Regions from separate parts of the Homo sapiens genome. Here all the other regions are reported to be linked to region 1. Evidence: microRNA targets listed by miRTarBase, many of them from high-throughput screens and not tested one by one. Region 1 holds a microRNA gene; each other region holds the end of a gene's coding sequence.
The links. Region 1 holds the annotated microRNA hsa-let-7c-3p (CUGUACAACCUUCUAGCUUUCC, at 2,221-2,242, shown strand). A microRNA usually pairs through its seed, bases 2 to 8, with sites in the 3' UTR of a target mRNA and lowers its output. Matches are read on the target gene's strand: a 7mer-m8 pairs with bases 2 to 8, a 7mer-A1 pairs with bases 2 to 7 and ends in A, and an 8mer does both.

Region 2: miRTarBase lists CKS2 as a target of hsa-let-7c-3p. Seed matches in the 3' UTR shown: 7mer-A1 at 440-446.
Region 3: miRTarBase lists NIPBL as a target of hsa-let-7c-3p. Seed matches in the 3' UTR shown: 7mer-m8 at 596-602.
Region 4: miRTarBase lists ZBTB41 as a target of hsa-let-7c-3p. Seed matches in the 3' UTR shown: 7mer-m8 at 1,811-1,817.

The regions. Positions count from the first base shown.
Region 1 is chr21:16,537,663-16,542,738 of GRCh38, forward strand. It overlaps MIRLET7C (microRNA let-7c), which reads left to right and starts at 2,166; the gene lies at 2,166-2,249. The region is part of intron 6 of MIR99AHG (mir-99a-let-7c cluster host gene); the gene reads left to right. MIR99A (microRNA 99a) reads left to right here and starts at 1,427; the gene lies at 1,427-1,507.
Region 2 is chr9:89,316,069-89,321,144 of GRCh38, forward strand. CKS2 (CDC28 protein kinase regulatory subunit 2) reads left to right here. Exons shown (of 3, transcript NM_001827.3): 3 at 305-635. The coding sequence ends at 357. SECISBP2 (SECIS binding protein 2) reads left to right here and starts at 2,432. Exons shown (of 17, transcript NM_024077.5): 1 at 2,432-2,544; 2 at 3,584-3,729. The coding sequence starts at 2,509. RefSeq lists an enhancer at 2,082-2,301 and a silencer at 2,472-2,791.
Region 3 is chr5:37,064,303-37,069,378 of GRCh38, forward strand. It overlaps NIPBL (NIPBL cohesin loading factor), which reads left to right. Exons shown (of 47, transcript NM_133433.4): 47 at 225-2,111. The coding sequence ends at 590. Among named protein-coding and RNA genes, the nearest start is that of CPLANE1-AS1, 180 kb to the right of the region's middle.
Region 4 is chr1:197,154,734-197,159,809 of GRCh38, reverse strand. ZBTB41 (zinc finger and BTB domain containing 41) reads left to right here. Exons shown (of 11, transcript NM_194314.3): 11 at 1-5,076. The coding sequence ends at 451. Among named protein-coding and RNA genes, the nearest start is that of ASPM, 11 kb to the right of the region's middle.

The DNA.
Region 1 (5,076 bases):
TGTATCCATACGCTTAAGATAGGTGCAATACGGTTTACTAGAAAGCTTTATAGGAAAAGAAAAAAATTATATTTTCTTATTTGTTGTACCATATAAAAGGAAGTGAAATCAGGAGGAGGGGAATAAGGTCATGCTTTTTCATCTTTTTTACATGACCTGATAAGACAATGAAACCAAAACATGCTTTCTTATAGTTATGGTAAAACTAAACCCAATGCTGCCTCTTATTTCACATTTGCATTTATAAATATATGTTGAAATATTTTTACTACAACTGAATGTATGATTGTTGATTATTTACTATAGTTTTTAATAATTATGAGGACAATTTAAGAATAAATAATGGTTTAAAATTATGTAGAACACATGATCTATATAAAGGCTATAAAACGTATTTATTTCAAAATATGCAAAATCACTAAGCAATTAGTATGTAGTATTATTTTACACAATAAAGATATAATTAGGAAATGCTAAGTGATTATAGATGTGAAATGATTAATGATTGTACAACTTATCATTTTGTTGCAGTTGAGTTTACAATCTTAAAAAAACGTGTATGTGGCTGGCTTTATGTTTACTCGTTTGTGTGTTTGCTTGTTGTCTGGTGGTTTAAAACATTTTTTAGTAATATTTTATTTTTGCCCAACCTGTTGACCAGATGAGAGTTGTATGTAGCCATGCATTTTAAGTGTATCTTTTTTGAACAATAAGTTTAAATATATTTTATTTAGGAAAGAAGATATCCTATGTCATGTAATACATCTGGAGTATAAATGTTAGTGTGGAGTATTAGTAATCATGCCATTATCGTGCCATTTAGTTTAGTTTTATATTAACTCATCCAAATATTGTAAATTTTAGCACCATTCCGACTATAGACACAGATGTATATATTTAAGGCTGATAATAACTTCCTGTATTCTCTAGCTAGTGAACAAGATCTTACTGTTTTATGAGAAAGTTATAATGTTACCAATTCCTTGAAACCAGTAACTAAACTAGTTTTATAAAAATTAAAATAAGCACGGTCTAACTCATACACAATTAACTTAATAGTTAATTTGGTTTTAATTATAGGCTCGTAATACTACATTCATGCCTCACAATTATATAATTCATACATGCATGTATGGATTCTTTTTTCTTTTAAAACTCAATTAGAATAGTTTAATTCCAAAATATTTACTATTGAAACAAAAGCAGTTCGTGAAAAATTTTTCAATAAACTACTTTTTAAATTCTCATGCATATAAATTTGTATTTAGTTTTGAATATTTATGAAGGCCTTTAATGGAGAATATGCATCCTTAGAACTCAGCATTTAAAACATTTATACTAAAGGATCAATATTATTTTTGACTCTTAATTGCATCAGATATTTACAACAAATTCTATATTAATAGGGGGCCCATGCAAGATGTTGCCCATTGGCATAAACCCGTAGATCCGATCTTGTGGTGAAGTGGACCGCACAAGCTCGCTTCTATGGGTCTGTGTCAGTGTGGTAATCTGACAAAATGCTATACACAGTGCCGTTCAACAATAGTTCAGTAAAATCCTGTTAAACTCCAGTTGATTATATACTTTTGAAGTCATTATATTTTCCTTTGTTTTTAATGTTTATTTTAATCATTGTCTGTCTTACAAGGCAGGCTTCAATTCTCAACAACTTGGAAGCGTTTATATCACACCCATTCAAGTTCGATTCCATGTACAGTAAATTGCATAAGAAAGTTGAACCTTTATAGCAGGGTTTGGACCAGGATCTGAATAGATTCTGTTCAGAAACTTCAGTGCATACTGTAGTGCTTAGTGTACCTCTTCAACTTCAGTAAGAAAATTAAAGACTACCATTGGATTTATATGTTTTTATTGAGCCTATTTCTCCTGAAAAAATGAGGCTGAATGCAATTGACTTTTACTATTAATTGCGACTAGAACTATGGCAGGTTAGATGGTCAGAAGACATTTTACGTGACCTATGCTGGAAACCCAAGTGTTTAGGTTAGTCCTATGAGAAACAGTTAGCAGCAAAGTTTACTGGTAAAATGTTAGAATATTATATCTATATCCTTGCCAAGCCCTTAGGTGTATGGCTGCCATATTTGGAGGAGCTGACTGAAGATATGATAAGGAGTTTGAAGCAACATTGGAAGCTGTGTGCATCCGGGTTGAGGTAGTAGGTTGTATGGTTTAGAGTTACACCCTGGGAGTTAACTGTACAACCTTCTAGCTTTCCTTGGAGCACACTTGAGCCGTCGAGGAATTCTTCATCACTTTAACCTGATTGAGCCAATTTGTGTGCAAGAAGGTAATGTGTCATGAGTATCTTGGATCATTGATTTGGGCCTTTATTACATTAAAATGATCATTTCAGCCCTATTAGATTATTCCATTTGTATCTGCTTATGAACAATGTCAAAATGGTATTTCTAATGGGTTGTCACTCCATGTTCAAACATTTTAAGAAAATTGTAGGTAGTGACTTAAATTGCATTAATATTAAAGCTTTTTATCATCTATAGATTAACAAAATTCAGACCTTAATTTTCAAATGGATCATTGGTCTATTTATATTGGCTGCTTAGACACTATAATAAAAAATGTCTGCTAGAGTTAATAGCTCCCATAGCACATTATTTGCGTTTTCCTTATGACACATCACTTTCTACCTTATGTTATGGCTATTTATGTGCTTGCTGATTTTTTCCGCACTAGACTGTAAGCCCCTTGAGGGCAAAGTCCATGTTTTATTTTTCACTGTATCCCCTCCAATGCCTTACTCATAATGAGCACTAACTATTTATTGGATTAGTGAATGGAGTGTAAGACCTCACTCTGTGATGAGTTTCTATTGAATATTTGAATGAGTTATGGCAGTGGTCAAACATCTGAGTTTTATTTATTGCTCCTAAAACTGTTTAAATTTAATTCCTGGACTGCTCCGCATCAGTAATACATGTGTCGATTTTTGACTGTGTTGAATGTGTTCATTCATTCTAAACAGATAAGTTAAAATTTAGAAGTACTTTTTATCTAGAATAAAAATAATAGAGTAAATTCATTTTTACTAATTAGTTCATGACAGTTTATGATCCTACACTTAGATAATTCATATTTCTGTTGAATTTAAATACCTTTCTTTCCAGATGAATCGTTTTTCTTTTAGCATCAATTTCAACTAAATATTCTATTTTAAGTCTCATTTAACAATATGATTTTTAAAAATTAGATTTGTGTCTTTTGTGTATTTCCCTCGTCTCCTGCCCTTTATTTTTGTACAGCTATATCTGTTGAATAAACCAGAAGCAACTAAACCAGAAACATGTCAATAAATTAATAATAAATATGTATATAAAGTATAATTTGAGAATGTGAACACATTTTTGTTTAAAGGAAAGGCACTTTATAATATTCTTTGTGTTACAAAGCAAATGGGACTCTTTGGAACCTTAGTTTGCTGTCAACTTTAGCAGCTGTTAGTGGTGTAATTTGTGTAGTGAGGCTATCTTACATAGATCATCTTTCAGACACAGGATTAAGTAGTTGTTGATGTTAGAACTTTAATTTAAGACTCCAAATATGAAACATGGAATTCATTAAAGAGACGTTTAGATGCAAATATATATTAAGGACCTCAAGATACTGGCTATGTGGTGCTGACCTTTCTAGAATGCTCAGGCATCCAAAATATCTTAATACCTAGAACTTGCTAACAATGTAGTGAAGAAGGAATGGCTACCCCCAACACGTAGAACATGTGAGCCTTAGAAAGTGAATACCAGTCACTTCAAGCAAAATAATTTGATTGGTCTACAGTAGTAAAGACTCTTTCTCTCTGTGAAAGAAAAATATTTGCAAGGACTAATCAAGAAGCAATGAATAAGAGGCAGTAGACATAGACCTAAAACAAACAAACAAAAAGACATGAAGAGATGAAAAGGAAAGTGACTCATAGCAAATAGGAACACCATTGTGTCTAATGATGGCAGTTCAACCCACGGATGAAAGAAAGGGACAACTAAATGGGTAAACAATTGTATCTTTATAAATAGTTTTTTCCTTGAGAGCCTAGGATCCCTTTCCTATGTGTTTCTATGTATGTATCTCCCAATACTAGGTGTATTTATTTAGAAGCCAAATCTATTGATGGGCCAAATAGAATATGATTGCCAATAAATGTCTATTTCCTTACAGTGTAATGGAGTTAAGTGCCTCACAGAGGTCAAGTAAGATGTGCAGTTTAAGGATAATCTTACAAAAGTACTATAATGAATTGTTAGAATTACAGCCTCTTTTATATACTATCACCTAAAGTGAATGAGTATAATAGAAGAATAATTGAAGAATGGTGAAGATGTCTCTATGATTCATTATGTTAGTTATGTAGAAATCATAAGAAAAAATCTGACCAGGTGTGGTGGCTCATGCCTGTAATCCCAGCACTTTGGGAGTCTGAGGCAGGTGGATCACTTGAGGTCAGGAGTTCGAGATCAGCCTGACCAAAATGGTGAAACCCCATCTCTACTAAAAATACAAAATTAACTGGGCATGGTGGCACACACCTGTAATCGCAGCTACTTGGGAGGCTGGGGCAGGAGAATAACTTGAACTCGGGAAGCGGAGGTTGCAGTGAGCCTAGATCATGCCATTGCACTGCAGCCTGGGCGACAGAATGAGACTCCGTTCTCAACAACACAAAACAAACAAAACAATAAGACAGAAAAAAACCTGCAAGGTGGAGGATATAGTTAGTACCAATGAAGAAAATTTTTAAAACTTCTCTGTAGGACAAGAACACTACGTGGAAGAATTGTATGTTTGCCTTTGATTCATAATAAATTTTGCTACTCCAGGTATGAGGGCTATGTAACTTGCTACAGGTTTATAAATAAATGGCAAATGTCAGATATAGAAATTGATAGGATTTTTTGAGAAACCAAGATATAGGACCACTGCTGATGTCAGTAATTAAAAATAGTTAAATTATGTCTAAGAAATCAAAGCGAAAGATTGTTCATATAGAGGGCTTATGTTCAGCTATGGGGAAACAACTAACCAGACTGAATAATT
Region 2 (5,076 bases), not on the chromosome of region 1:
TGAAGAACTTAAGTGTAGATTTCTGTGCCCCACCTATTGAAACAGAATCTATGGGGATGAGCATTAGTATGAGATCCTGTAGGTGATTTGAAGGAGGTGTTTTTCCCTATAAAGAGGTAATCTTTTTACTTTTAATCTATTTACTGTAGACAGTAACTGTGAAAAAAAAATCATTTTGGATACCTCAAACCAATTAATAGTGGACTTAGTTTATTTTATTCTGGCTTAGTTGAGAATACTTTTGAATTTCTGTTGAGTATATGAAAATCATATTAAAATGATTCAAAACATTTTCTTTCCACAGAACCACATATTCTTCTCTTTAGACGACCTCTTCCAAAAGATCAACAAAAATGAAGTTTATCTGGGGATCGTCAAATCTTTTTCAAATTTAATGTATATGTGTATATAAGGTAGTATTCAGTGAATACTTGAGAAATGTACAAATCTTTCATCCATACCTGTGCATGAGCTGTATTCTTCACAGCAACAGAGCTCAGTTAAATGCAACTGCAAGTAGGTTACTGTAAGATGTTTAAGATAAAAGTTCTTCCAGTCAGTTTTTCTCTTAAGTGCCTGTTTGAGTTTACTGAAACAGTTTACTTTTGTTCAATAAAGTTTGTATGTTGCATTTATCACTGTTTCAAGTTTTTGAGGTATATTTTCTTAATTTGTGACTATTGAAATTTGTGACTATTGAAATTGATTTCAGTGTTATAGTTTTAGCTCTGAGGAAGTTAACTTACCTTAAAGATGATGTTAAATGAGTTTAAAATAGTGCGGTATGATCTGGATACCATTTAATTCACTTAATGAAGAAATTAATTACCAGGGATATGTTTAAACTAAAGCCAAAGTAGATTTTACCTCTTGAATTCCTGGAGAATTGTCTAGAACAGGAAAGCCCAAATTAATACTATCTGGGCTACTTCACTGGCCACTGGTGGTCTTGGGAGAAACCTCTTTTTTATCCTCTTCTACATTTCCAAAGTAGGGATAATGTTTCCTATAAAGTATCACCACATTTTTAAAAGTTCAAAAACACTGTAAAACACCTTTGCCTTTTTAGCTGCTAGGAAAGTGTTTTGGAGTTATTCTAATTAATTGCTATGCTATAGAAACATCTTAAATGAGCAGCCAGCATACATCAGGTCCATTGGTTAAGAAAGGGTGTCTTTACACATGAGGGCAATAAATTTTGAAGGTTGTGATTAGCAGCATCCTAAAATCTACTGCCACTACCATAGGTTGTGTCCAGGGTAACCAACAGAAACATGACAAAATCAAGTAAACTTCATTACACTTCCGGGTAGACCCAATAGTGCTGAAAGGAAGGCGACAGCTACCCCTAAACTTCCAGCATAAATTCCTGCCAGACCAGACCCTAAGGATCACTTCTGCTAGAGGCTGTGTAGTGAACTGAGACCCACCAGGACAGAAATCTGAAAAAACTGGAGCTGCACCTGCCTTACTTGCTTGAAATACTTCGTATTCAATGGTAGAGTTAACGTCTGTGCAAGGGACAGAGGAAACCTACAATTTGCCTCAACCTAATCCCCATTCCTCAAATAGCCTGTTTTGCTGACATTTTCTGTTCCTTAAATCCACTTGCACTTTCCTCCAAGCCTTTGAGTGAGAGGAAAGTTCCTCCTCCATCTATTGAAATCCACTCTGCATTCTTCCCTGTACTTTTGGTCAACCTCCTATCCCTGCCGCACTTTATACATTTCTCTCAATATTTAACGAATTTGCTCTGTGTAGAACTTTTTTTTTCTCGTGAAAATTATACTATTCCATCTCTTGACCATATCTTAGCACTTTTTTTAATTTTTGAAAGAAACCGAGCGATTTTTAAATTATTTTCTGTGGCTACTTCCAAACTTAAGGTTTCTGGAAATTTAGGATACCATCAAGAGTCTTGTAGGCTTTCCAGGTTTGTAGGACCTACAGGGTATGCAATTCCTGTAAGTCACCAATCTTGGGGAAATTTTAGGGAAATGCAGTGGCGGGGGTGAGAGTAATCTCGGCCTCCTCAGTTTCCTTATTAGTAAATCTTTCTCTTCAGGTGACTGCTCAAAGGTCACCTCAGCGAGAGGCCTTTCCAGACTACCCCATCCCGTCCTAACGCTAGACTCGTGAGGCCCAGGGGAGAAAAGTAAATCACGGCCTAACTCTTGTTTATAGTCGCTACTGCCTTGGTGGAGACTATCTCCGATATCCCAGCACTAAAAGGCAGATCCAAGACTCCCGCAAGCTACGGTGGGTCCCCAGCCCAGAGGACTCCTGGGGGTCCCCATTTTCCGCAAGCGCCCCACTGCCTCCACGTGCTGCCCGCGCAGGTCCAGTGCCGCCGCCGCGTACTTCCGGCCGGAAGAAAGGGCGGGCTCTGTCGCTTTGCTGTGACGCACTTCCTGGCGTCGCCTGCGGGGGCGGAAACGCTTTGTCTGTCCGGCAAGCCGACGGCCCGCTGCTGGCCTCCGTGACGCGGCCTCCTCCGCGCCTCGCGGCATGGCGTCGGAGGGGCCGCGGGAGCCCGAAAGCGAGGTAAGGGCCGACGGGGGCTCTCTCGGCAGCCTCAGTCCGTCCGCCTGCCTCGCACTGGGGGCTCGGCCGGGCGGTGACGGGGCTGGTCCAGCGGGCGTGGGTCGGATGCTGGTGACGGCACGGGAGCGCCCTACCGGGTGGCCGCGATCTTCGCGCCCCGCCTCGGGTCCGCCTTGGGGTGGCGGTCAGCGGCTACAGACCCCGCCCACAGTTAGCGCCGCGTCTGTGGTGCGATGTCACCCAGCGCAGTGACTGCGGCCCAGCCCGGCGCTCCCCGCAGTCGGGGCGGGGGGACTCTGGCGAGCTTCCCGCGCTCTTGGGAACGGATAGATTGTTTTAAAGGATCCTGCGTTTTTCTGAACGTCATTCTCCGCTCTACGTACTCAGCATTACCACTAGATGGAGCCCTGGCGATCGCTTGCATCATTTTTAGACCCATAAAATTCTCGGTGAAAGTAAATCTCTTACTACGTCACTAAAAACTAAAGAAAGAAATCTTAGTGAATTGAAATTTCAAAGGCTCGTGGTGATAATATTTTCTAGCAAAGCAAGGTTTGGTATTTCAATAAAGCAAGACTTAGTGGTTCATGAGTAAAATGCATATGCTTTTGTGCAACTTTTTCAAGAAAATGTAATGGAAATAAACGTCTGCAGTGTGTTTTGGGTGCTGTAGTTAAACAGTCCACGTGTATTTGACTGCAGTAGTTGTACTGTGTGCAGTTCTATTATTTCTAAGTGAATCTGTGGTAAAAACACCCTTATTCCAAGATCTAAACTATATAATCTGTGTTGTTTTATTTCCACTTGAATTCGTTGTCATTTTTCACTTTTAATGTTTGAACTACTGCCTTTTCTACAAAAAAAAAAGCATTGGGGAGAAATCGTTAGCAAGCAGGTTCTTGTCTTTACGAGGCAGAAGTTTTTAAACAACATCGGGAACATTTCTGGGGCTATTAGGAACACCTCTTGGGTCTTTTTGTTTGTTTATATTTGCTTGATCTCTGAATGTTTGTGGCCAAAACCTCATATTTTTCCTCAGGGCATCAAGTTATCAGCAGATGTCAAACCATTTGTCCCCAGATTTGCCGGGCTCAATGTGGCATGGTTAGAGTCCTCAGAAGCATGTGTCTTCCCCAGCTCTGCAGCCACATACTATCCGTTTGTTCAGGAACCACCAGTGACAGAGTATGTATCTTTCTAAAAGTCTTACCTAGGGGCTTACATTTTGGATTTAATGGTGATTAGACTTTCAAATACTCAGCAGTTACTGCACTAAAGTTCTGCAGATGATGAGAGAATGCTCTTCAACCAAGAAGAGTCTGAGCCAGTAGCACAACTTAACTGTATCCTGTGCCAAAAACAGAAGCTTTAACTCCCCTTTTTTTTCTTCATACTCATTGTTATTTTCGGCAAAGAAATAGTAGAGACTGCATTGCATTTGTTAATAAGAAATGCAGTTTCAGGCCAGGCGCTGTGGCTCACGCCTGTAATCCCAGCACTTTGGGAGGCCGAGGTGGGTGGATCACCTGAGGTCAGGAGTTCAAGACCAGTGTGACCAACATGGTGAAACTCCGTCTCCACAAAAATACAAAAATTAATCAGGTATGGTGGCGGACACCTGTAATCCCAGGTATTCGGGAGACTGGGGCAGCAGAATCCTTTGAACCTGGGAGGCAGAGGTTGCAGTGGGCCAAGATAGCACCACTACACTCAAGCCTGGCTGACAGAGTGAGACTCTGTCTCAAAAAAAAAAAAAAAAAAAAAAAAATCCCGTTTCAAGGTTCATTTGTTCATATGGTTTAAAAATATATCATATATCTAATGGGAGATGAAATGTGGAGGGAAGGGCAAAGAAAGGACCAAATAAACGTACTCCTCCTTTTTAAGGTTAACATTTTAAAATCTTGTTGAGCGAAGGGGAGGGGACTAGCAACCATAGCTGCCTCTGTGTGGATAATTTTTTGGAAATTGTTGACTTTTGCTTTCCACCTTTTTACTTTATATCTGTTAATATGGAGATGAATTTTACACATTTCAGGCTTAAGTTCTTCTAAATTTGAGTTGAAAGAAGGCTTACATTTTTCCTTACATTTTCTTTTTCCTTCTCAGGATTCATTCTCTAGGTTTACAAAATGGCTTCCTCTTGCAGCTGAATTTAGACAAAAAAAGTATTAATCTTTCACATAATTGTGTAGATTTATTTGTAGATCTGTTTTTAAGATTTGCATCAGGTGTAGTTCTAATCTAAGAATCCTAATGCTTTTTTCTTCTTTGATATGATTCTAACTTGTTTCCTTTTATTTGTGCCTGCATGATGTAATTGAAAATAGTTTGTACTGTATATAAATTCTAGAATTATATTTGCAAGAATGAGAATTGTAATGAATAAGAAAATGATTGAGTTGTCTTTTGTGTTTAGGAAATACTGAAAGTTGTATTTTTTTGACGAAAGTTGAAACACTACCTTTATATGCTGGAATTTGGTCTTTGGTAGGAATACCCTATTTTTCCACTGTATTTCATCCACTGTAA
Region 3 (5,076 bases), not on the chromosome of region 1:
AATAAGAGTAAAGACACGGGTACAAATTAAGAGTTATATGGTTTTACAAGTATATGTTAACCCCTTGGCGCTGGCGGTCACGGTGCGTCTCATTGCCGGCAATGGAAGTGTGCCGGGAAATCCCAACTCCCGGCGTCAAGGGATTAAAAGCAATAAAAACAATAATTTCACTAAAATTCTTTTGTGTAACACTTGGTCTTTTTTCCCCCCTCCCAATGTTTTAGTCATTGAGAAGGTCAAAACGAAATTCAGACTCTACGGAGTTGGCAGCACAGATGAATGAAAGTGTTGACGTCATGGATGTCATCGCTATTTGCTGTCCAAAGTACAAAGATCGACCACAAATTGCAAGAGTAGTGCAGAAAACCAGCAGTGGCTTCAGTGTTCAGTGGATGGCAGGCTCCTACAGTGGCTCCTGGACTGAGGCTAAGCGCCGTGATGGCCGCAAACTGGTGCCTTGGGTAGACACTATTAAAGAGTCAGACATTATTTACAAAAAAATTGCTCTAACGAGTGCTAATAAGCTGACTAATAAAGTTGTTCAGACTTTACGATCCCTGTATGCCGCCAAGGATGGGACTTCCAGCTAATGAATTTGTACATGCAGCCAAATTTACAGGAATTTTTTTAAAAGGCAGAAAAACTTGAAATACCAACATTCTGGCAAAAAAAAATCAGTTTTATGAAGAGTAAGTGGAACCTGGGATGCAGGAACAAAAGAAGGAAATGTTGGGCAAACATTTTTGTGGGAGCTCCCTTCGCTGTTGTGCAGCAGAAACAGATTCTCAGTTCATTTTTACTCCCACTGTATTATAGTTTAACAAAAATTGTTTATATCTTGGAAAAAAAACTTTCTGTTTAAAAAAAATAAACAAGTGAATGTTGGAAATTAGTCTGTTAATGTTCTTAATAAAGTGTTCTTGGAGTTTAACCTAGCAGCGGATGGCTTTCTTTAGCTTAGCCCAGTTTCCAGGGAAGCATTGTTTTTTCCAGGCTGTAAAATGGCAGAATCTCCTGGATATATAATTTATTCTGTTGAAAAAAAAAAAAGCATGCAGTATCTATGACCTATCTGCAGAAGGAGTTTTTGTAAATGTAGATTTTGATGTATTAGGTCACCCTGAAAACAATACAAGAAAAGGGATCCCCAGGTAATCTGGTGGAGCGAATACTGCAATAAATTTTTTTACTTCTCTTTGTTACTTGTCTGTTTCCATTTGAATTTCTTATTGTAAAAATCTGTTTAAATCCATTTATATTATTTTACAGTCTTTTATGTAAAATTTATTATATCACTGGTTTTCAAAGCAAAACATAAAATATTGTTTATACAGTTTGTATAGGCTGACTTCTGAATAATTGGTATCTATTATTTTCATTCCCATAAGAGGGTGTAAACAATTAACTCCAGGGTTTTATTGTATCCTGCAATATTTAGTATTAACTATATATGATTTAGCACTGTGCCAAACACATTTTCAAGAGTACATTTTGATATAAAAAGAAACTATAGTTTATTCCTTGTATGCTTCAATTTCTTTCTAGTGATGTCATGATGCTGATATTTATTCTTTAAACCTCGGGTAAAGGTAACCTGTTATTTGGAAAACCAGCATTTCTCTTGGTTAAAATGATGTCCGGTTATTTTAGAACTAGAGTTGAGATGAATATGACACTTCATAATTACACTCACTACATTTTTCACAAATTATTTTTTAATGCTGAAAAGAGTAATTTTACTTGTTGAGATGTTTATTCATTTTCTAATCTATGCTAAAAGCTTTTATCATAAGTCTTGGGAACAGTTGTCATTTACACATTACTTACTGCAGATATCTTGACTAAATCAGGAGGGAGGTGTTTAATCATTTGATATGTATAGTTGACACTCAGGAATAGTAATGCCTAAAATTTACAGTGGATGAGGTCTGTTTCAAGTTTAATTCTTTTTAAAAATGTTTTACTTATTTTTAAATCACTTTGAAAAAATTGACCTCCAGAATGCTGTTTTATGAAATTGGCAAATAAATGAAGGTATTCAATTTTTGAGGAAGAATGACATTGCCACAAAATACCTTTTTGTGACACCTATTAAACCACTATGAAAATAACTTTTCAGGATCTATTTCCTATGTGGAATTCTTTCAAATGCTTTCTTCACGGAAATGTTTTCTCACTCTTCGTTTTGTTCCCCTTACTTACATGTTTCTCTTTTCCTTATACTGTGAACTCTGGAACAAAACTAGATTGGGTTGGTTGGTTGGTTGGTTGGTTCTTCTTGGAGTTTATGTATATCAACAAAGGATTTGAGGTCACTTCTGAGAATAATATATCAAAAAGGGTACTGGTTAGAGAAAATATAAGAATAAAATCCAGCCCAGAGAGAGTACTAAGAATGTAAATGTGAGTAAAAAGCCAGTTTTGAATTCTATTTACGTGACAGTGATGCATGCTGTCATTTAATTCTCACAAAAACTCTCGTTATATATTTTATCCTCATTTTGTAGATGAGGATAGCAGGCTTAGAAGGATTTGGTAATTTACTAATGTCATGATAGGGATTTAAATCTGGAATTGAAGTAATTGTGTCTCACTACTCTAAGCTAATTGAACATCAGACATTAAGAGAGATGATCCTTATTGAAGTAAACCAGTTCCTAAAGGATCCTTGTAGTATACATACTTGGGAATCCTGTTCAGAGTAATTTTTAGGAAGTAGGTACACAGTAGTAAGTCTTCTGTTGCCTCAGTTGGCCATAGATGGAATTCTGTGTTTGCCACTCATTAGAAATTTAGGAATTTTAGGCAGGGCACGGTGGCTCACACCTGTAATCCCAGCACTTTGGGAGGCCGAGGCGGGCAGATCACCTGAAGTCAGGAGTTCAAGACCAGCCTGACCAACATGGGGAAACCCCGTCTCTACTAAAAATACAAAATTAGCCGGGCGTGGTGGTGCATACCTGTAATCCCAGCTACTCGAGAGGCTGAGGCAGGAGAATCGCTTGAACCCAGGAGGCGGAGGTTGCGGTGAGCCGAGATCACGCCATAGCACTCCAGCCTGGGCAACAAGAGCGAAACTCCATCTCAAAAAAGAAAAAGAAATTTAGGAATTTTAGGAATCAGTTTTGAAATTTTGTATATATTCTAAGCTCCTATTTTATCTGTTAATAGAAGCCAAATGTTAATATAAGCCTTAACTCTTAAATATACAAACCAAAATTTTCAGAAAGTTGAAGATTCTTCAAGATGAATTGTTAGGTCTTAACACTATTAAAGCTTTGGCAGTCAAATATACAAAATCAAACTTTAAGTATATTGGGGATTCACAAAGTTCTATTAAGTATTTAGAAAGTTCAGTCTTACTCTATAGTGTGTTGATTAATTACCATAGATTAATCTTGTTATATTGACTTGAAAAGATAGGTTATATTTGATATAAAAATTTTCAAGTATCTCTTCACTTTTTAAGTACATTAATATGAAATTTTAGCCTTATTGAAATTGTTTATTAAGAAAGAATGGCTAGTTTTAAAAATATGTTCATACCAAAATACACATGGCAGAAAATTCAGTGATCTCTAGAATTTTCTAGATGTAGTAATCTCTAATGGAAGAAATGCTGAGTTTTTTGAGAGAAATATATAGCTTACTCTGTTGATAGGTTGAGTATTTGAATTATTCAGGTAACTGAAGCACACAGGTGATTTTTATGACCATAGTCTGTCTCATGAAAACAGGTAAGTCAAACTGATGTTTGTTCAATACAGATTTCATGATCAGCAAGCAAATTTACCGTATTTTTATTTAGAAATAAATTAACCAGGGAAGTATGTGGTTCTCCCTCCCCTACCCACCACTTTTAGTTGCACAGAAAAATTCATCCTTGTCACTACCTGTGTCCAGGTGGTCTGCATCTTCAGAACTGTGGATATGGATAATTGGAATAAGATTACTTTTGCAAATATAAAACTCATCAGATTACCCACTTGAAATAATGTAATTTGAAACACTTGATAGTAATTTTTGCCCCATAAAAATCCTACGTGTTTGAACCTTTTGCTGTTTGCCTTGCTCATTTTAAAACCAAAGTTTGTTTAGTCCTATAGCTAATGTTTGTCATAGGCAGCATTTGTTACAAAATGATTTTACTAATTTTTCACTTGAATTTTTTTCTGAAATACAGTCTGTCCTATTGGTGCTAGCCGAGAAACAATTACATGCAAATTTAGTGTAATAGAAAGTCACTGACCAAACAAATTCAGTTTGGTACTCTGTTGACTAAGTGGTCATAAAGTTCCTGTGTGTTTTGCATGATGATGTGAGTACCAAGCCACCCTTCGTTTTTAAGACCCCAATTGTATATGGCTTCACTGCTGAGAGTGGTACGGTGTACACAATTATTTTTCTTATAAGAATTTTGTAAATTATTTTTACTTTAAGAGAATCTCCATTTACCCATTCCTCTGTTTCAGTCATTCTGAATTTCTGACCAAATTTATTTGAGCTGTACTCCATGCACCCCTTTCCACTCTTTCTGAAACAAGTCTCAGGCATCATTTTATTTTATCCATAAATAGGTTATCTTTTTTTTTTTTTTTTTTTTTTTTTGAGACGGAGTCTTGCTCTGTCGTCCAGGCTGGAGTGCAGTGGCCCCATCTCAGCTCACTGCAAGCTCCGCCTCCCATGTTCACACCATTCTGCCTCAGCCTCCCGAGTAGCTGGGACTACAGGCGCCCGCCACCATGCCCGGCTAATTTTTTGTATTTTTAGTAGAGACGGGGTTTCACCATGTTAGCCAGGATGGTCTCAATCTCCTGACCTCACGATCTACCCACGTCAGCCTCCCAAAGTGCTGGGATTACAGGCGTGAGCCACCGTGCCCAGCCCCATAAATAGGTTATCTTTAAATATTCTTCCTTGATATCAAATATCCAGTAAGTGTTTAAATTTTTTATTTTCTCATAAATGTCATATTTTTTAGGTCCTTTCTGTAGGCTTTCTCATGTCTTTTTATTCCTTGCAAATTTCTTATATTGAAAACACAAGTATTTTTCCTTGGGTTCTTAAGTAGATTCT
Region 4 (5,076 bases), not on the chromosome of region 1:
GGAAAAACTTGTATCCTTGCCAGTTGAGTACTCATCTGATGACAAAATCTTTCAAACAGAAACAAAACAATATATGGACCAGCCCAAAGTTTATCAGTCGGAAGCCAAGACGATGTTACAGAATGTATCTGCTGAAGTATGTGTTCCAGTAACTCTGGTTCCAGTTCAGATGCCTGACACTCCGAGTGACCTAGTGCGTCATACTACCACACTCCCACCATCTTCTCATGAGATTCTGTCACCACAGCCACAGTCAACTGATTATCCACGAGCAGCGGATTTAGCTTTTCTGGAAAAATATACTCTTACTCCTCAACCTGCAAATATAGTTCACCCAGTTCGACCTGAACAAATGCTAGATCCTAGAGAACAATCTTATCTTGGAACATTACTGGGCCTTGATAGCACTACTGGTGTTCAAAATATTTCTACGAATGAGCATCATTCATGAGTAAATCTAAACATTCCACAGATTTTTGGATGGTTATATGCTAATGGTAGAGATGATAGCTTTTAAATTTGTGGGGCTGCTATTTTCTTGTTTTCTCTAGTTTCTCAAGTCCTCAGAACAGTTTCAAATCAAGAAAACTATGTGTCTCTGTTTACTGAACATGAATATTTGGACAAAATTTCTGGCATAATATTTGAAGTGCACATTTTTGTGATTTTTAAAGATTATTTAGTGCTAACTTTTAATGGTTTCTTAAATTTTTTGCAATTATTAGCTGCTGATATTATGGAAGTATTTTTTTTAATCATCAGTGGAAATTTTTATTCTTCTTTAGTCTCATTCCTCTCCTTCTTCTTCCTAGCCCTTCTTACAAACAAGTTTGAGGACCATGTAGCCTTTAAGAAGGAATTAAGAGTACACTGATAATTGCAACTGTTTCTTATCCTAAGATTCAATATTACGTTATACAAATTTTTAAAATTGAAATTAGGAATTTGAATTTACAAGAATGCCTTGGATATTTCTGTGTTGTCTTTCCATTCATACATAATTTTAGGTTATCATTATCCTTTGGACTTTTGATATACTCAAAGCCAGAAAGCTTAACTAATGTAAGATTAGCTATTATTTGTAGGACTGAAATAATAATCCAGATAATTGGTTTTTGCCTATACTTCAATTGTTATGAATAAGAAAGGCAAACATAGGTCTGGGCATTAAATTATACAAACTGAAAATGTGTTACAAGAAAAATATGAGAGTTTTAACTAGATGTTTTTCAAGGTAAGTTCACCTTTTGTACTTTACTATTTATTTCAGAAATGTTGACAATACAACATAGCATATGTCTTCATCTCACTAAGAAAAGAGCAGTTGTAACTCAATGAAATTTAATTAAACATGCTACTTTTGATTTCATTTACTTGGCTGATAGAAACTCTGGGAAACAGAACCTAGATATTTTGTGTTCAATTGTTAGAAAAGGTGCCAAACAGATTATGAAATTTGTGCCTAATTTAACTTAACATTGTTTAATTAAATGGAACCACTACTTATATACAGATTTACATGCAATCCAGATCTTTAATTTTGCCTTCACAAAAGCCTAATGTCTGTAATTAACCTTTAATTTTTATTTCTGTATGAGACAAAAGTTGAGGACTTGGTGAAAGGAAATAGCAGTTACAGCAAAACCTCAGTGATTACAATTGAGGAAAAAGTCAAAATTATAAAATACCTTTAAAGACATGCACTTTCCATATTTTCAAGTCAATTTTAACTAAAAACTAAGATAATGTTTCCTAGTAGAGTTGCTTGAAGATTAGACTAGACAGGGTTGATTTATTATTAGCATGTCATTTGTACATAAACTAGTAGAAAATAGCAGTTTTAAAAGTTTTCTATTTCAGTTTTGTTTACACTCCTAATTGCTTTAAGCACTTTTTTTGTGTGTGTAAACTGTAAAGTCTAGCCCAGCCCTTGTGAAAAAAAAAATCACAAATAAAACAGTGAAGTTTTAATGAATAAAGTTTAATCAATTAGTAATGGCGGAAACTGTCGCTGAAGCACTTAAGAAATAAAGGTACTTTACAGCAACATTCGCCATACTAGCGGAGGTAAAACAAAAGAAATATTGAAAACTGAGGCAGTTAACCAAAGTAGCTCATATAAATAATAAAACCAATCTGAGTTTAGCCTCATTTGTCAAGGTTTGGTTGTAATTGTCTTAAGACTAGTGGACATACTTACTATGTTCTCCTTTTTAAAGTATTCTTATTTCTTTGTGTGGAAATGTTATATCTGGGGTACTTACATGATTGAGGTTGACTATATGAGGTACTGTTAGTCTGTTAGTCTTTCAAATTGACTTTTAAAAATACATATCTTTATGATTTTCATCATAAAGACTGGCAATATTATAACTAAAAATCTTACTATAATGAAAGAAATCATACATAAAAATGTAGCCTGCCTTACATATAAGCTAATGTAGAAAAGTTTAGACTTATAAAAAGGCAGATAGTATATATATATTTATATACATGTATGTATATGGTATATTATACATTTGGTGGCAGAAAAAGAAGATACTGCATTTTCACATTGAAAAGAATACTTTGATTTTTGAAGGTATTTACTTTAGGGTTCTTTTAATAATAATGTCCGTCCTAATGCTTTAAATATATGATTTAATTGTAGGAATTGGTTTACACAGAACTTTTTTGGAATACATCTCTTAGTAAAGTGAAATATAATAATATAATTGTATTTAGTTACTATTGTAGATAACTTAAACTTGAGTAGTGATTTACTGTTTTATAAAATGCTTTCATATATGTTATCTCATTTGAACCTCATAACCAGCCCTGAAATAGTAAAAACAAGCTATATTCCCACTTTATAAAGAATTTGAGGTTAAGATAAAAGGACTCATTTAAGCTCACATGGTCAGTAGGTGGCAGAGCTACTAGTAGGGAAAGAAGAAAGCTAGCATTAATGAATGCTTACTATGTGCCAGGTACTACATCCTGTCATTTAATCTTAACCTAGTCTGGGAGATGCGTAATATAATTCTGGTGAAGTAATAGTTTCAGTGGATGATTGAAAACAACAACAACAAAAACAAAATGAAACTAATCTGCTGCCTCTAATTTCCAAAAATGTAAGAAATTTTACAATTGTGAAAACCTCATGGATTTGGGCAAACTGAATGTATATAGGCTTTTGACAAAAGTTGGCACAAAAAGTATAAAAGGAGGCCTATTCTTTTCAGTTGACCTTTTGTAATATTTGATTTAGAGTATTTTGGACAAATGCTCTATAACTCTAATCCATTTATTTTGTAACTGTACTTAAAATTTTGAATCTTGCAACTAAGTTTAGCCTCATTCAGAATTTTTTTATTTTGTGAGCATAATTTATTGTTTTAAATTAATTTTTTAGCAGATAGCAGTTAGCACTTAATCTGTAAATTGAATAATTTATCAAGTGCAGGAATGTGTTAATCTAATGGGTTTTGACTTAAATGCACCAAAGATTTTTAGTAGGTATTAAATAGTTTAAAAGACTTTAAATTCTTTCTTGCTTGAATAACTATTTGTCCAAAGAAGCACAGTTGAAGTCCTAGAATAATGGATTTTTTTAAAAAAAAAAAGTTGTTAGTTTGAATACTGAGATTGATTATTGTGTTTATATGTATAAAAATAGGAGCAAAAGAAAATACTCTGGGAATAGTCATACTGACAAACCAATTATAAGTGAGAATACTGTTTTCCTTAGTTTAATTAATACAATGTTATGTTTTTTAGAGAACACTACTAAATGCTAAATAAGCCTATTTTTTACACTACACTATCAAAATAATTTTTGCCTTCGAATTTTTTTAAGTCAAGTTGAGGTTATTTTTGTAAGAAACCCAACCTATTTTTTTTGCAGCCTAAAATCCCATTTAAGGTTAGGGGTTGGTCCTTATGCCAGCAAGATTTAACCAACTGTAAAGATAGTAGTCTTTGCATACATTTAAGTAATTAAGGCATTTATTGCTGGGAGAATAGGAGTAGCAAAAATATGGTTTTAAATTGGTGCTTTATTAGGTGACTTCCTTTTAGGCGATGGCAGGTCATGAAATAGGTACACTAATAATTTTCTATCAACCTTAAAAAGTGTCAAAGCATCTTTGTAGGGTGACTCTAAACTGCTAATTAAGGGTTAATAAGTAATTATCATTGGTTGCTTTTCAATATAATTGCAAACAAATTAAAAACACAGTTAAACTAATATGTTTATAAGCTTGAGTTTTCTTCCTACCATATCACTCTCATATATCAGTGATGAAATGTCAGATTTTGAGCAGTAGCTCTTTGACAGTGTCCTTTTATACCCAGTCTTTTCTGCATTGAATGCTTTGTGCCTTTTCGATGTGTTGTAGTTGCTTAGAGTTGATTCTGCTGGCTAGATTGTACTGATTAATAGATTTTTATTTTTATTTTTTTTTGGTTATGGGTGTTATGATTGTGTTGCCTGCTGGTTGGGCAACTTTTTTTTTTTAGGTTGCTTTATGTTTATATAGGCAAATTGGCACTAAGTGTTAGTGTGAATATTTGTTTTTATGATTTATATATCATTTTAAAAATCTCTGTTGTGGCCTTTATAGTTACTGTGAAGCCACTCTTGGGCCTGTCTCTATATGCTTATTAGAGGAATCTGACAAGTAAAATAAAATGAGTAGTGTGTCTGCATCTGTGTCTCTGTTTCTCTGTCTTTTAAATAACCAGTAACCATAACTACACAGCCCTGCACTGAATGACCTTATTTCAGTTTGCCTAAAACTGAACAAGAGGTGATGGTTTGAGATGAGTTTCTCATTAGGAGCAGCAACATCCCAACCAATATATAATGAGTTGATCAACTCAGGAAAAATTAGGACTTTAAAGAAGGTTGTATTTGGATATTCTAAGATTCAGTGCCAAATTTAAAATGCCTAGAAATGTATTCTACAAGTAGCATTTCTAAAACTTTAAGTAGTGTTATAGTAAATGCTACTTGCTGTTAGAGTGAATAATGGATAATGTGAGAATAATTTTCTAAACGACTTCTAGAAACTAGACAGTTCTTCCTTATATCCT